Homo sapiens: one gene and its partner. The protein of the gene in region 2 interacts with the protein of the main gene of each other region in a pairwise test. Each region holds a gene or a part of one and is shown on either strand. Other genes may lie near its edges. The genes, in order: GKAP1 and DHFR.

Region 1 (3,823 bases), on a different chromosome or scaffold from region 2:
AACATACAAACGATAATGTGTGGTTAGCTTTCAGAATGGATCTTAATGATCCTTACTTCTTAGTATTCACCTTTACATAGCCCTTTCCTGCAATGAATAGGGTGGACCTGTGTGATAATGTGAATATAGTAAGAAATATATATGTAACCAGTGGGATATTGTGGAAATGACAGCAGTTCATTCAAATATGATCACTGTGAATCAAGGCATAGAATAGAACTATAAAGAAAAGCAAAGGAGTAAGTTATACAAAAATCAGGATACTTGTTATCTCTGGCTGGTGCAGTGGGGGAATGCAATTGGAGAGAAGCATAGGAGTCAGTTAACGTTTTGTTAACCTTTGTGCTGGCTACTTGGAGTGTTCATCTTAATTTTTTCAAATTGAATATTCAGTTTTTACCTGAAACATTTCAAAATACAAATTTCTGAGTTGCCATTCTGTTAAGACAATCTTTGTCTTTTTTAATTAGAAGAGCACTTAGTCTTCTGGTTGTTACAGGGCTTCTTAATTTGGACTTTCAGAATAAGGTTCAACAAATCTAGGTCCAGGTGGAGACTCAGCCGCTAACTTCCAGAAAGAACTAAGGGAAGTCACATAACCAACTTAAACTCCACTTACCTTAGCTGTATAACTAAAGGATTTGGATTAGGAACTACTAGGGGACTTTTAAGATCCCTTCTAAGTCTAAACGGTTGTGGAAAAGCTGACAGCACATGGAATGAAGCTACACTGACCTATGCTTGCATGGAAACTAGTGAACTAAACATAATGTGGAAGGCATTTTGAAAAGTTTCCTTTGGTTGAGAGAATTTAAGCTCTTTATTTTTGCTGTCAGTTCTAAATCACAGTCTCTAGAATCAAACCTATGGTAGTATTTTATATATGATAAGAGTGGTATTCCGTCTTTACTCCTTTTTTTCTTGTATTGGAAGTTGGGAGTTAACATGTAGTTGGACTAAAGGTCTTTTTTTTGTGTATCATGAAAAAATGATATTCTTTTCCACTGTAAACCATATTGATTTAGGATGTTCTCTATAACTATGTATATATTTCAGAATGATTGAGAGAGGAAGACTGTGAATTTTTAAAGTATACATGGAAAAATGAGTACATTATATCTGTGAAATCTCATATTTTTCTATTGTAAAATGTTATATCGTTTACTTAAATATAAAAGTATGTTATTGCTAATAGTGCTGTGGGTATTAATCCAAATTTACTAAATCCAGTGTCAGAAGAAATTTATTTTATCTACATATGGTTGTTTTAGAATCTACAACAGATTTTACTCTGTTTGTTTACCCATCTGCCTACTCTTCTGCCTCCCCACAGAAATTATTCTTGACAGAAGTATTTTAAAAGAAAAATCTTTACGATGGCCTCAGCAGTACTTAGTTCTGTTCCCACCACCGCTTCTCGTTTTGCCCTGTTACAAGTGGATAGTGGCAGTGGCTCTGATTCTGAACCTGGAAAAGGTAAAGGTCGAAATACTGGAAAGTCTCAAACTTTAGGAAGCAAGTCAACTACAAATGAGAAAAAAAGAGAGAAAAGAAGAAAAAAGAAGGAACAGCAACAGAGTGAAGCAAATGAGGTAACACAATTATCTGTGTTGTCTGCTTTCCCAGTAGATGGTAATCATCCTGAGAACAGATACTATCTTGTTCCCCTGTGTATCCATAGTACCTGTTCCACAGGTACTCTGAAAATATTACTTCAATGAATGGATGTGAATTTGTGTATATTTAAAATCAAATGTAATGATCTTTTTTTTTTTTTGAGACAGGGTCTCACTCTGTCACCTAGGCTGGAGTGCAGTGGGATGATCACAGTTCACTGTAGCCTCAACCTCCTAGGCTCAAGGTAGCCTCACACCTTAGCCTCCCAAGTAGCTGGGACCACAGGCACACACTGCCATGCCTGGCTAATTTTTGCGTTTTTTGTAGAGATGGAGTTTTGCCATGTTGCATAGGCTGGTCTTGAACACCTGGGCTCAAGCAATCTGCTTGCCTCAGCCTCCCAAAGGGTTGGGATTACAGGCGTGAGCCACCACACCCTGCCTGAACATTTTTAAAGTACGTTTTTTCTGACTGGAAGTTTGTGTGTTCATTGCATAAAGTTTAAAATAGGAAAGTCTTAAAAGGAAACAGGTCATTTATAGATATAACCAGAGATATAACCAATTAATATTTTGGTATGTGTTTTCTGTACACATATATAAATTTATATGAATATATACATGTATGTATATATCCTTCTAATACTTAAATGAAAATGGGGTTATATAATAGACTGTTTTATAACTGGCTTTTAAAAAAAATTAACCATGAGCAGTTTTCCATATTGGTAAATACAGATCTCTGTTATTTTAAATGAATCCACAGTTTACAATATTTAATTACATGGTTTTTTTTTTATTTTTTATTTTTTTTATTGATCATTCTTGGGTGTTTCTCGCAGAGGGGGATTTGGCAGGGTCATAGGACAATAGTGGAGGGAAGGTCGGCAGATAAACAAGTGAACAAAGGTTTCTGGTTTTCCTAGGCAGAGGACCCTGCGGCCTTCCGCAGTGTTTGTGTCCCTGGGTACTTGAGATTAGGGAGTGGTGATGATTCTTAACGAGCATGCTGCCTTCAAGCATCTGTTTAACAAAGCACATCTTGCACCGCCCTTAATCCATTTAACCCTGAGTGGACACAGCACGTTTCAGAGAGCACAGGGTTGGGGGTAAGGTCACCGATCAACAGGATCCCAAGGCAGAAGAATTTATCTTAGTACAGAACAAAATGAAAAGTCTCCCATGTCTACTTCTTTCTACACAGACACGGCAACCATCCGATTTCTCAATCTTTTCCCCACCTTTCCCCCCCTTCTATTCCACAAAACTGCCATTGTCATCCCGGCCCGTTCTCAATGAGCTGTTGGGTACACCTCCCAGATGGGGTGGTGGCCGGGCAGAGGGGCTCCTCACTTCCCAGTAGGGGCGGCCGGGCAGAGGCGCCCCTCACCTCCCGGACGGGGCGGCTGGCCGGGCGGGGGGCTGACCCCCCACCTCCCTCCCGGACGGGGCGGCTGACCAGGCAGAGGGGCTCCTCACTTCCCAGTAGGGGCGGCCGGGCAGAGGCGCCCCTCACCTCCCGGACGGGGTGGCTGGCCCGGCGGGGGGCTGACCCCACCTCCCTCCCGTACGGGGCGGCTGGCCGGGCGGGGGGCTGGACCCCCCCACCTCCCTCCCGGACGGGGCGGCTGGCCAGGCGGGGGGCTGACCCCCCCCACCTCCCTCCTGGATGGGGCGGCTGGCCGGGCCGGGGGCTGACCCCCCCACCTCCCTCCCGGACGGGGCGTCTGGCTGGGCGGGGGGCTGACCCCCCCACCTCCCTCCCGGACGGGGCGGCTGGCCGAGCAGAGGGGCTCCTCACTTCCCAGTAGGGGTGGCCGGGCAGAGGCGCCCCTCACCTCCCGGACGGGGTGGCTGGCCGGGCGGGGGGCTGACCCCCCCCACCTCCCTCCCGGACGGGGCGGCTGGCCGGGCGGGGGGCTGACCCCCCCACCTCCCTCCCGGATGGGGCGGCTGGCCGGGCGGGGTGCTGACCCCCCCACCTCCCTCCCAGATGGGGCGGCTGGCCGGGCGGGGGGCTGAGCCCCCCACCTCCCTCCCGGACGGGGTGGCTGGCCCGGCAGAGGGGCTCCTCACTTCCCAGTAGGGGCGGCTGGGCAGAGGCGCCCCTCACCTCCCAGACGGGGCGGCTGGCCGTGCGGGGGGCTGACCCCCCTACCTCCCTCCCGGACGGGGCGGCTGCCGGGCGGAGACGCTCCTCACTTCCC
Region 2 (3,823 bases):
GAGAATTGCTTGAGCCAGGGAGGTGGAGGCTGCAGTGAGCCGCGATCACACCACTGCCCTCTGGCCTGGGTGACAGTGGGTCATTCTTGTCATACCCAACTAAATCAGAGTTGAGGGGCCAGGGGAAAAAAGCACTCAGGGTATAAAACATTGCTCCAAGAATGTAATTCTCTGTAAGCCTGACTGCTGGAACTGCTTGTTGTAACCTGAAACCAGTTTTATCTATAGCTTCTGAGATAACTTGCTGCAACTCTAGAACTGATTTTGCCCACCACTCACTGCTCGCCAGTCGGAGCTTGCTAGCTCCCCCAAACCTTAGTAGTGCCAATGAACTTTCTCAAAGAGCAGTAACATTTCTCCTTTTAAATAAAACCTCTAACCTTCCCTTTGTTCTTCAGACATATGGAAGGTCACTTGTCTGCATGTATGCCCTAAACTGCAATTTTTTCTTCCCAAACACAATGTTAAATTTAGAGAATTCATCGCAAAATTTTTATTTTGCCTTTGATAATACTAAAAGGTTGGGACAGCAGAGCAAGGTGAAGATAGAAAAAAAGGAATCCAGAATCAAGTCAGGGGAGATGAGAGAGTTGATTTAGGTGGCAGTGGATTTTTGTCTCAAGATGGAGGGAAACAAGAACAAAGTAATATGTTAAGGTGAAAATGAGATCATGAGTCTGTTCACTGTGATTTCATTAATATTAATATTAATGTGTATGTTCTATAAGATATAAAGTAGCAAGTTTATGGGGGTGGGGGTAGGAACTGATATCTATACCCTTCTGTGTGCCAGAAACTTTACATACAAAATTTCAGTGAGTCTTCAAAATCACCCAAAAAAGTTGTCATTATTCATCTCATTTAATAGGTAAGGAAAGAGGTTCAACAAGGCTTACTTGTAACCTGCCTAAAGTCACAAAGTTATTAGGTGCCATAGTAGACATCAGAAACCAGGTCAGTGTTTGCTACTCCAAGTGTGTGAGTGGTAGGGGGAGAGAGAACTGCACCTTCAAGAAGTTTTAATCACTGTGGAGATTCTGATAGTGAGATCGTAAAAAATTATAACATGAAATTAAGTTAACTTTCGTGGATGGGAGACTATTTAAATCTTACATAATGGAGGCAATTTTGGATTTTCTAAAGATGGTGTCCAGGCTACTATAGCATTACAGTAAAACTTGTTTATTTAATTTTTGGTTCCAACGAGGTTTTTTTTTTTTTTTTGAGACGGAGTCTTGCTCTGTTGCCCAGGCTGGAGTGCAGTGGTATAGTCTTGGCTCACTGCAACTTCTGCCTCCTGGTTCAAGAGCTTCTCCTGCCTCAGCTTCCCGAGTAGCTGGGATTACAGGTGCTTGCCACCACGCCTGGCTAATTTTTGTATTTTCAGTAGAGACGGGGTTTTGCTATGTTGGCCAGGCTGGTCTCGAACACCTGACCTCGTGATCTGCCCACCTCGGCCTCCCAAAGTGCTGGGATTACAGATGTGAGCCACTGTGCCCGGCTGGTTCCAAAGACTTTTAAAAGCCACTTTATTGATATAAATCACACACCATAACATTTACCCTTTTAAAGTGTATAGTTCAGTGACGTTTAGTAGATTCAGAGTCGAGCAAGCATCACTCCTATCTACTTTTAGAACAGTTCCATCACACCAAAAAAGAAAACATTCTGTACTCATCAGTGGCCATTCCCACCCTTCTCACCTCAAGTTCTTTTAAAGCCACAACTTGACTGTCTAGACAACTTTGGAAAAGCATTTTCCCTCAATACCTTACTTAAGAAATATTTACCCTAAATTACTATAGTGTTTGGTAGAAAATTTTGTGATCACTTTGAGGATTCAGTTTCTTCTTACATTGGGGGAGAGGGGTGAAAAATGAAGTATCTTTAGAGTTGGCATAAGCAAGTGATTTCCATGTATAAATCTCTGCCCTCTTATTCAGGACCCTGCAGTGCCTGGCACTCAGCAGCTGTTCACTATATGTGTGGGACTGACCAACAAGTAAGGAAGTGGAAGGAAGAACAACAACAAAAAAGAGCTCTAACATTTTTTACTAACTGGTATCACTATTTCCCTGGCATGCTTGATAACAAAGACTTTAAATTTTCTCAGCCTTAAAAAAAAAAGCACAAGACACCAACATATGTTATATATAAATACAGAAGAAGCAACCAAACCCAATTACATGCATCACAGGAAGGTCGTAAAAAAAAATTACACTCATCATATTCGAGGAGAAATGCTGGCTCAAGTGAACATCTCCCCCACTGAGATTTCTTTCTGTTTGAGCTTAAGCTAGCCATAAACAAACTTGAGTAGTATTCAAAAATATCATTAAAGAGTTTCTTGGAATGGCGATATAGTCTGTGAATTTGAAATCTACCAAGGAAAGAGATAATCAGAGCATCCTAGCAACCAGAAGAAAGAACAGCATGAAGATGGAAGCAGGCAGCAAGATGCACATCAACAAATCTGCCCCGTCGCCCAGAGGCAATCAATGCAAATATTCTATACACTTTCTTCTCGGTTTTTACCTATGCCATTCTAGGAAGAACTTGGGAGAAAATCTATGTAAGCCTGAATCCCCTTAGCCTATATAGCTGTGTAGTTCTTTCCTTCCCATAGTGTTAAACTTGACTAGGATATAGTCCTTGGTTATTCAGATACTGTATCTAGGTGTTGCTTTGAAGGCATTTTGTAGATGTGATTACAATTCAGTTTTTTTTTTAAATTTTTTTGAGACAGGATCTCACTCTGTTGCCTAGGCTGGAGCGCAGTGGTACTATCTTGGCTCACTGCAACCTCTGCCTCCTGGAAACTACAGGTACATGCCACCACGCCTGGCTAATTTGTTTGTAGAGACGGGGTTTCATTATGTTGCACGGTTGGTCTCAAACTCCTGAGCTCAAGTGATCCACCTGCCTTGGCCTTCCAAAGTGCTGGGATTGCAGGGGTTAGCCACTGTGCCCGGTCAGACTTTAATCTGAGTGGGCTGAATCAATCAGTTTAAAGGCTTTAAGAGTAGAGTTGAGGCTTTCCTGAAGAAATTTCACCTGTACCACTTCAGCCCCTGCTGGAGAATTCCAGCTTGTCCTTTCTGATGGCCCGTTTTACAGATTTTTGGACTCACGTACCCAGCCCCCATAATTGTGTAAGCCAATTCCTCGCAATAAAACTCTTTAATATACCTGTATCTATCTACTACTGGTTCTGCTTCTTTGGTTGAATCTTCACCAATACACATGGGAAAAGAATACTATGACTACTGTTCCCAAGAAAGTAGTGCCCTAGGATACTGCATTCTTTTTGGTGATTATATTATTAGACTAAGAATGATTAACATGCCAGATCCCAGACCTTCCCCTTAGATCCTGATATGGTTTGGCTGTGTCTCCGCCAAAATCTCACCTTGAATTGTAATAATCCCCACATGTCAAGGGTGATACCAGGTGGAGATAAATGAATTATGGGGGGTGGTACCCCCCATGATGTTCTCGTGATAGTTAAGTTCTCATGAGATCTGATGGTTTTATAAGGGGCCTTTCCCCCTTTGCTCGGCACTTCTCCTTCCTGCCACCATGTGAAGAAGGATGCGTTTGCTTCCCCTTCCACCATGATTTTAAATTTCCTGTGGCCTCCCCAGCCATGAGGAACTGTGAGTCAATTAAACCTCTTTCCTGTACAAATTGCCCAGTCTTGGGCAGTTCTTTATAAGAACATGAGAATGGATTAACACAGGTCCAATTCTGGCCACCCCTCAACCTCCCAAGCCATTGGAGTTGACTTCCTGGGCAGTCTTAATATGATTACCCCTCCCACTCT

The links.
Region 1: the proteins of DHFR (region 2) and GKAP1 interact in a two-hybrid assay, tested with the Homo sapiens proteins (one large-scale study listed by BioGRID).

Annotation. Positions count from the first base shown.
Region 1 is NC_000009.12:83,804,071-83,807,893, reverse strand, and holds part of GKAP1 (G kinase-anchoring protein 1), read left to right. Parts: intron 1-1,333; 5' UTR 1,334-1,376; coding exon 1,377-1,592; intron 1,593-3,823. UniProt on the Homo sapiens protein: Regulates insulin-dependent IRS1 tyrosine phosphorylation in adipocytes by modulating the availability of IRS1 to IR tyrosine kinase. Its association with IRS1 is required for insulin-induced translocation of SLC2A4 to the cell membrane.
Region 2 is NC_000005.10:80,644,898-80,648,720, forward strand, and holds part of DHFR (dihydrofolate reductase), read right to left. Parts: intron 1-3,823.